Linked DNA regions of Homo sapiens. The gene in region 2 interacts genetically with the main gene of each other region. Each region holds a gene or a part of one and is shown on either strand. Other genes may lie near its edges. The genes, in order: CTNNBL1 and FARSB.

Evidence for each region.
Region 1: changes in FARSB (region 2) and CTNNBL1 together harm fitness less than expected from each alone (positive genetic interaction), as found in Homo sapiens cells (one large-scale study listed by BioGRID).

What each region holds. Positions count from the first base shown.
Region 1 is NC_000020.11:37,773,839-37,777,661, reverse strand, and holds part of CTNNBL1 (beta-catenin-like protein 1), read right to left. Parts: intron 318-3,823; coding exon 245-317; intron 9-244; coding exon 1-8. UniProt on the Homo sapiens protein: Component of the PRP19-CDC5L complex that forms an integral part of the spliceosome and is required for activating pre-mRNA splicing.
Region 2 is NC_000002.12:222,645,864-222,649,686, forward strand, and holds part of FARSB (phenylalanine--tRNA ligase beta subunit), read right to left. Parts: intron 2,933-3,823; coding exon 2,877-2,932; intron 2,263-2,876; exon of another isoform or gene 1,978-2,262; intron 1,134-1,977; exon of another isoform or gene 938-1,133; intron 484-937; exon of another isoform or gene 1-483.

The DNA.
Region 1 (3,823 bases), on a different chromosome or scaffold from region 2:
CCTGTTTTCTAAAGGGGAAAAAAATAGAGGAAGAAAAAAAATGAACCTAACTGTCAGATTTTACAGCCGTCTAACACTGATACATCAGCAAACAAAATCAATACAGCTTGACAGAGTACAAAAGCAGCACAGGGAGTGAGAGGGAGAGCAAGGGGATGCCAAAGGCAAGAGAGCTTGCTGTCATGATCTGAAACAAGCCTGGCTCCTATCCTAACAGAATATCAATACTGAGAGGGCGCCTCACCATCATTGTCCTGGAGCAATATGGCCAGCACTTCACTGCAATACAGTTTGTTGGCATCAAAAGGCATCTTTGCCTATGGGGAAATAGGAGAAATGAGAAAAATGTTAAGGGGTCTTGCTTCCTTCCCCAGGACAAATTTTTCACGAGTACTATGATCTGAGTTAGAGAGAAGCAGAAGTTAGAAAAGGAAAAGGCAGTTAAGGGTAAAAACGTCTGCCTCTGCTCTCAAGAGACCAGAACCAAGTAAAGTGACAGATTGAAACAATGGCTCTCACACTCTTAATGCCCAGGTATTAAGGTTACCTCCTCGGTGAAGACTTCCAAGATTTCCCATTTTGAGTCCAGAGATTATATATGTCTAGCCCATAGTACCCAAATGTGAACTAGATGAATGAGAGTTTTGAACTTTTAAGATTAAAACTCACCATGAAGCTTAATTCACAAGTTACAATCATGAAATTAGGCTATAAATTAGTTAATATATGAGCAGAGAAGAAAGCAATTCTTGATTAACTGAATGTATTTATCACAAAGTAGTTCCTTCTGGATTTTTTTAATGCTTAAAATTTAATTTGAAATCATAAACTTATCTGCTTGCATGCCATAATCTGCCTACTACTTAAAACAGAAACCACATTAAATATGCAAAAATGTGTTAATATTTTAACACCCAAATTACTACCCACAATTCTTTCCCCGCTGCATGCTCTGCTATTTGGGAGTTTCAGAGGGGACACATCTACTGCACAGACTATCTTTCATGGCTGTCCTCAGTGTTGCTTCGGTAGTGAGACTTAAATATCTCACCATTATCACTGCCCCCTGGATAAAGGTGCATAGAGAGGAGCGAGTCTCAGTGGTGTGTTTTTATTTATGGTGCCCATGATCCTTAAAATGCAGGCATGTAAACAATGATTATTAATCAGCAGCAACCTTTGCTACCTATCTGTGTTTTTGAAATGACAAAGAATTTCTGTACTTGGAAAAGACAAGGGAAGTGTTTATCTTGGAACTAACACTTCCGTCACCTTACCGCCATTCACAGATCTGTTTAGATATTGGTTTTATACTTAAAGAGGAAGAGTTGTACCTAATCAAGCAATATTCAGTATCATTTCAGTTTTCTGTGCACGTCTTCCTCATCAAGCTAAGTGCAGCCTACAGGGTTTCAGGAGGTCAACCAAGTATGACCATCTTAGGTTAAAAGATCTATAAATGCAAGGTCTTACATGTGCTAAATGTAAGGTATGCTCCCTGGGCGAGCTTGAAGCCTTGTTTCAAGAAATTCAGCATAATAGTCAGGGCTTAAATGCAACCTGTGGTATGTTTCACTTTAAGAAAAATGGTTTCATATTAACGAAAATCAAAACATGAAGGTGAAAAGCCAAGGAGTAAGCATCTCTATCAAAATCAAGGATTTGCGAATAAAATTTCCCACTCAAATTATGTAAGTTCCAAGTACTGCTATTATATTTTAAAAGATTTAAGCCACACCAACTTATACATTAGCATTGCAAGGGCCATGGTTCTTGTTTAAAACAAGACACTTAACTGAAAGAAGCCAAAAGACAGTAGGTCACTAGAGCCATGGCCTTTCTGTGGATCTAATGCCTCTTGTCCTTTATTCAATTTTGTAAGCTCCTGTTTTCAAGTTGGGGGGAGTTTTTCTTCCTTTCAATAAATACTTATTAGGCACCTGCTATAGGGAAGACACAGAATTAAGCAAGAGAACAAACAGGGGTAACTTAGATCTGAACTCTGTCCACTGTTGTGGCATTTAAAAACCTTACACTGAATTAAAATTAATTTTGTAGAAATATCAAATTTTAAAAAAGGAAAATAAAACACAGATCTGGCATTAGACACACCTAAGGTTGACTCAAATCTGCAGTTCTCCAACTTTGCGCTGTGGCAACTGGGGTGTCATATTTAATTCACCACAGGATATGTTAAATTTTCAAGGAGAACACAGTGAAATGTGACATCTGTTGAACACTGCATTAACCAGGAGCTCAAGTTACATTTCTTCTGGTGACATCATATCTTTGTGGAGCTGCGTTTGGATAGCTGCTCTGACAAAAATAACTGTGAAAATCGATGTGAAATCAGAATGATGGTCGTAGCGTTCAATCTGATCCTAAGGTTTAAGGATTTGAGCAGTACCAAAAGGCACACATACCATTAGGAAGTAACTATGATATTTAAGAATGAAATAAAAATATTTTTTCTTTCAATTTGTGTGTATTATCTTCTCAAATGGCTAATAAATTGTAAGGACATAAATATATATTAAATGGTTTGGACATAACTACTTAATAAATGAGACTATTAGGTACTTTTTGGCATAGCGGTGCTGTAAAAACAGAATTACTGAGACACTAAGAATGCTGTAAGCTGACAATGGGAATCTATGACCCAAGAAACATTCTCAGTCTCAGTTTCCTCATCTGTAAAATGAAAATAAAAAATAGCACTTTTTTGATTAAGGGCACTGACATGAAAAAAAGAAAAAAGAAATAGAAAAAAAATCCCACTTATTTGGAGAGTTACTATGAGAATTTAAAAACATAATATGAAAGTACCTAACACACAGTAGGTACCACAAGTTTTTCTGACAACCATAACCAGAAATATCTGCATTAGAATCTGAGCTCTAACAGTTACCAGCTATGAGACTGGCCAAATTAATATCTTCCTCATGAAGTGGCTGTACTAAGGGAACTGGTGTATACATAACAGGCACCGACCAGCTGAGTTTCTTGCTACTGAGAATTCTTGGTTCCACAGGAAATCTCCACCTTTTGCTGTAAGACACTACTAAGAGTTTCCAATTTAACCAAAGTAAGTTTTTAAAAACCAGACTGATAACTTCATCATTTTTAAATTAAAATATAAGTTCTGACTGAGAAATTGGCATGAAGGAAGAATCTAATCAGGAAACCAAAATGATGAGGCCCGATAACTCCCCAACGCTGAGCTCTGCAATGCTTCAGAACCTAAAAGCAGTGCCAGCTGAGAAGCAGCTTGGCAAGAGGAGGTGGCTTCAAAGATGCCAAGGCCCAATGCTCACAGGCTCTCTCACGTGGTTCCCATGTGGTTTGGGCAACACCATTTCCTCTCTCTCTGGGATTTCTTTATCTGTAAATTGGGGATAGCTGCACCCTCTTGGCAGGGCTGTTTGTGAGGATTAGAAATAATGTATGTGGCCAGGCGCAGTGGCTCACACCTGTACTCCCAGCACTTTGGGAAGCTGAGGCGGGAGGATCACTTGACCCCAGGAGTTCAAGACCAGCCTGGGCAACATAGTGAGACCTCATCTCTACAAAAAACTACAAACATTAGCTGGGTGTGGTGGTGTGCACCTGAAGTCCCAGCTACTTGGGAGGCTGAGGTTGGAAAATCACTTGAGCCTGGGAGGTTAAGGCTGCAGTGAGTAGTGATGGCACCAACACTCTGGCCTGGCCAACAGCATGAGACCCTGCCTCAAAAAAAAAAAAAAAAAAAAAAAGAGAGAAAGAAAGAAAAAGAAGAAAAAGACAGGAAAGAAAGAAGAAGGTTCTAGAAAAACACTTTAGCATG
Region 2 (3,823 bases):
GCCAAAACTAGATTAACTGGCTCAGTTATGTCTACTAGGTGAAAGAAAATACAGAATCTGTTACTGTAGAAATTTTAAGAGGTTTTGAGTCAGTTCCAGTATAAAAATAAGGCCAAAGTTCTCCTGTAAAATCATCATTAAAAGTACAGAGAAGAGATCTATCATTCAAATTATAAAAGGAAACCTCATTCATTTCACAGTCTAAAAAAATGCCAATCTTACTAGGTGTTACTTTTGGCAGCAGAATAATTTCCTTATGGCCCAATACAATATAATTATTCCGACTAGATTACCAAATTCTCCATAATCCATCCTGTACTAAAATTGGTTGACTCTTCCTCCTTGTGGGAGGAGAGTCACTACAGACACCAAGAATCCATTCAGGCATGTCTTTAACTTCTACTTCCCGGTACTGCCTGCCACAATTTTATCCCTTAGAACCCAGAACAGCTGGGAGCAGATAAAATCTTCTTGGGTTATGAGGTAAGTTTTGTGTTGTATTTCCATATCGCACAGTTTTTCTATCTTCTGAGACTATAAGTTTACGATGTGCTGCTTCAGGATCTAGAATTACATCTACTTGAAATCGCTTGATAATTTTGTTTTGGCCACAATATTGTGGAGACAGATGGTAACCATATTCTTTTAATTTGAATAAAAAAGGTTTAGGGAATTTTAAATTCTTATGTCTGTGATAGATATCCTTAACATCAGCCAGTAATTCCAGTTCTGACTTCACATATATGCTCTCTATCTTCTTTAGTAGATATTTTAATGAGGAGGTATAATCTGAAAATTTTGTTAGGCTTTCATTTAGTTGTGCTAAAATATCCATCTCGTCATCTTGTAATTGCCCAAAAACAGTCTCTTGCTCATTTTGCAGAAATAACCTAAGTTGCTCAAATTCAGACTTGACTTCTTCTGCCGTATGTTTTACCTTTTTCTTCAGTTCCAGTGATTTTCTGGTTTGTATAGTTATGACTTTTTCAATTAGTTCCACTCTCTCCTTCCACGGTGCATTGTATTGCTCCAGTTTTTTCCTGATAGGAGGCAGCCTTCTTTATGGGCCAAACACAGCGATGCTGGTGATCAGTGGACAAACTGCACCTTGGACATAAAAGCTCTAGGTCTTTCTGAGAGAAGAAAGTCAAAACCTGATTATGCTTCTTACACACATGCTTCTCTTCCTGCCTCTTCCTCTTGCTTCTTAGCTGGAGTTGCTTAGCAATTTCAGTCAAACTACCCAGCTGGGGATTGCTTATAAATTTCCTTTCTGGACAGCACAAGTGGCAAAAGGGGCAGGGGAAACTATCATCTAGATCCTTCCAGGACATAATGATGCAGGAGAGACAGAAGTTATGCCCACAGCTGATGGTCACTGGGTCTTTCAAGTAGTCCAGACAGATGGGACAGCTAGCCTCTGCTCGGAGGTCAGCCAGGGCTGTCACAAATTCTACGGAGCCTGGAACAAAGATGGTAGGTAAGGTAATTCTTTTATTTTAGCAAGGCCTAGCTCTCTAGAGCTCAAGACCCACTATGCAGTGGATTCCTCCCCAGACCTTGAAATCTGACCAGCTTTCAGTTTTACTGACTTGGCATGTTGATGGCAGCTTCTAGAAACTTGTTAAGCCCTCAGCTCCTTAGCTTCAGACTTCACAGCCTGCAGCCTATTGCATATTAGAACTTATTAGCTGGGCTGCTGCTCTTCCCACTAAATGAAATAAAGTCAAGTTTTCTTCAAGAAAGCAGCCTCAGGTCCAAGATAAGGACTCCTTCCTGTAATCCCAGCTACTCAGGAGGCTGAGGCAGGAGAATCGCCTGAACCCAAGAGGAGGAGGTTGTGGTGAGCCAAGATCGCGCTGTCGCACTCCAGCCTGGGCAACAGAGTGAAACTATATAAAGCACATTGGGCCAGGCATGGTGGCTCACACCTGTAATCTCAGCACTTTGGGAGGCCAAAGCAGTGGATCACTTGAGGTCAGCAGTTCGAGAACCAGCCTGGCCAACATGGTAAAACCTCGTCTCTCCTTGCATTATAATCACCTGGAGGGCTTGGTAAAAGGTTGCTTGGGCCACATCCCCAGTTTCTGGTTCAGTAGGGCTGGTTTTTTCCTAAGTTCCCAGATGATGCTGCTGGCCTGCGGACTGTACTTTGTGAACTTATGCTGGAGCAGATGGATCAGAAACCCCGGCCAGAGGATGCTCAGGACCCATCAAGCCCCCGCGAGGAAGGACTCAGACCCCCAACCCCACCAAATTAAAGTATGTCTTTAATAGATAATCATTATTAACAATATTAAAATGTATAGCCGACTTGATTTTTTTAAATATTGTAATCATTATACAATCAAAAGTCAAAGAAAATGCTTCCTCATTTTTATAAGCAAGTCCTTAAAAAATATTAGTTCATTTTACAAGACCAATGAATATAGTAATGCATTAGTACTGGTTGAAGAGGCACGGAGGAAGGTTATGGGGGCAGAGGAGCTGAAGGAGGAGGCGCTGGAAGTGAAGGAGGCAGGGTAACTCTGGTTGAAGCAACATTTCTACTGCTTCTTGGTCCCTTTCTGTGATTAATTTGCCAAAGGAGGGAGCTTACTTTCATACTGGGGTTATCTAACACATTCTATCCATTTCCACAGCATGAGCCTGGTAACAAGGTGATTGTAGATGGAATAAGGCATGAACTCCTTTTGAGATTTTAGTCAAGGCAACAGACAGACATGGAGCTTAGCCCTCTGAACACAGAAATCATGGCCCACAAACATTATCACCTTAGTCTAACTATAAGGTAACAAAGATGAAATACAGTATAACCCTGAAAAATAAGCTTATGCACACAATCTTTGAAAAATAGACAAATATCCAATACATACAATTTCATCAAGCTCCAGACCAAATTCAAAACATAGTTCATCAAATTCTTCGTCAGCTAGGAAAATAAAAAAGGAGATGGTTAATTTCACTCTGTTCAGTATAAGTGAAAACTACATACAAACTGCATTTTCTTATTACTAATTGCCTTACACCAATCATACTACTAAATATCAGGCATCACATATTATCATTTAAAAACAAACAGGCCAGGCATGGTGGCTCATGCCTGTAATCCCAGCACTTTGGGAGGCCAATGTGTGTGGATCATCTGAGGTCAGGAGTTTGAAACCAGCCTGGCCAACACGGTGAAACCCTGTCTCTACTAAAAATACAAAATTAGCCAGGCATGGTGGCGCATGCCTGTAATCCCAGCTACTTGGGAGGCTGAGGCAGGAGAATTGCTTGAACCTGGGAGGCAGAGGTTGCAGTGAGCCGAGATCATGACATTGCACTCCAGCCTGGCTGACAAGAGCGAGACTCCGTCTCAAAAAATTAAAAAAAAAAAAAAAAAAAAAAAAAGCTGGGCCAAAAAAATTTAAGATAAAAAAAAGAAAAAACTATTAAAGGCTTGATTAATCTACACTAATATCAACTGTAGTTTAGGTTACCTGCACTGGGAAGTTTGCATGTACACAGAAGAAAAACACCTGTTCACCTGTTAAGTAGAGATCAGATATAAAGTAGGCTCCAAATCACAGATCTCACACAACAGAATGTCACATAAGTCCTATCAGGTAAAATGGTCTGAGGTGGCCTGACACTTTTGGCTTTGAAGCCAAGTCAATCAGAGTTTGAATTCTATCCCACTTATTAGATCTGAGAGTTTGGCACCTTATGTAAACTTTCTTGGTATCTTGTGTCAACATTACAGCTGCCTCATCTATAAAATGGTATTTCACAGCCATTATGGCATGGTACTATTGGAAAGATTTAAATGCTAATGCAT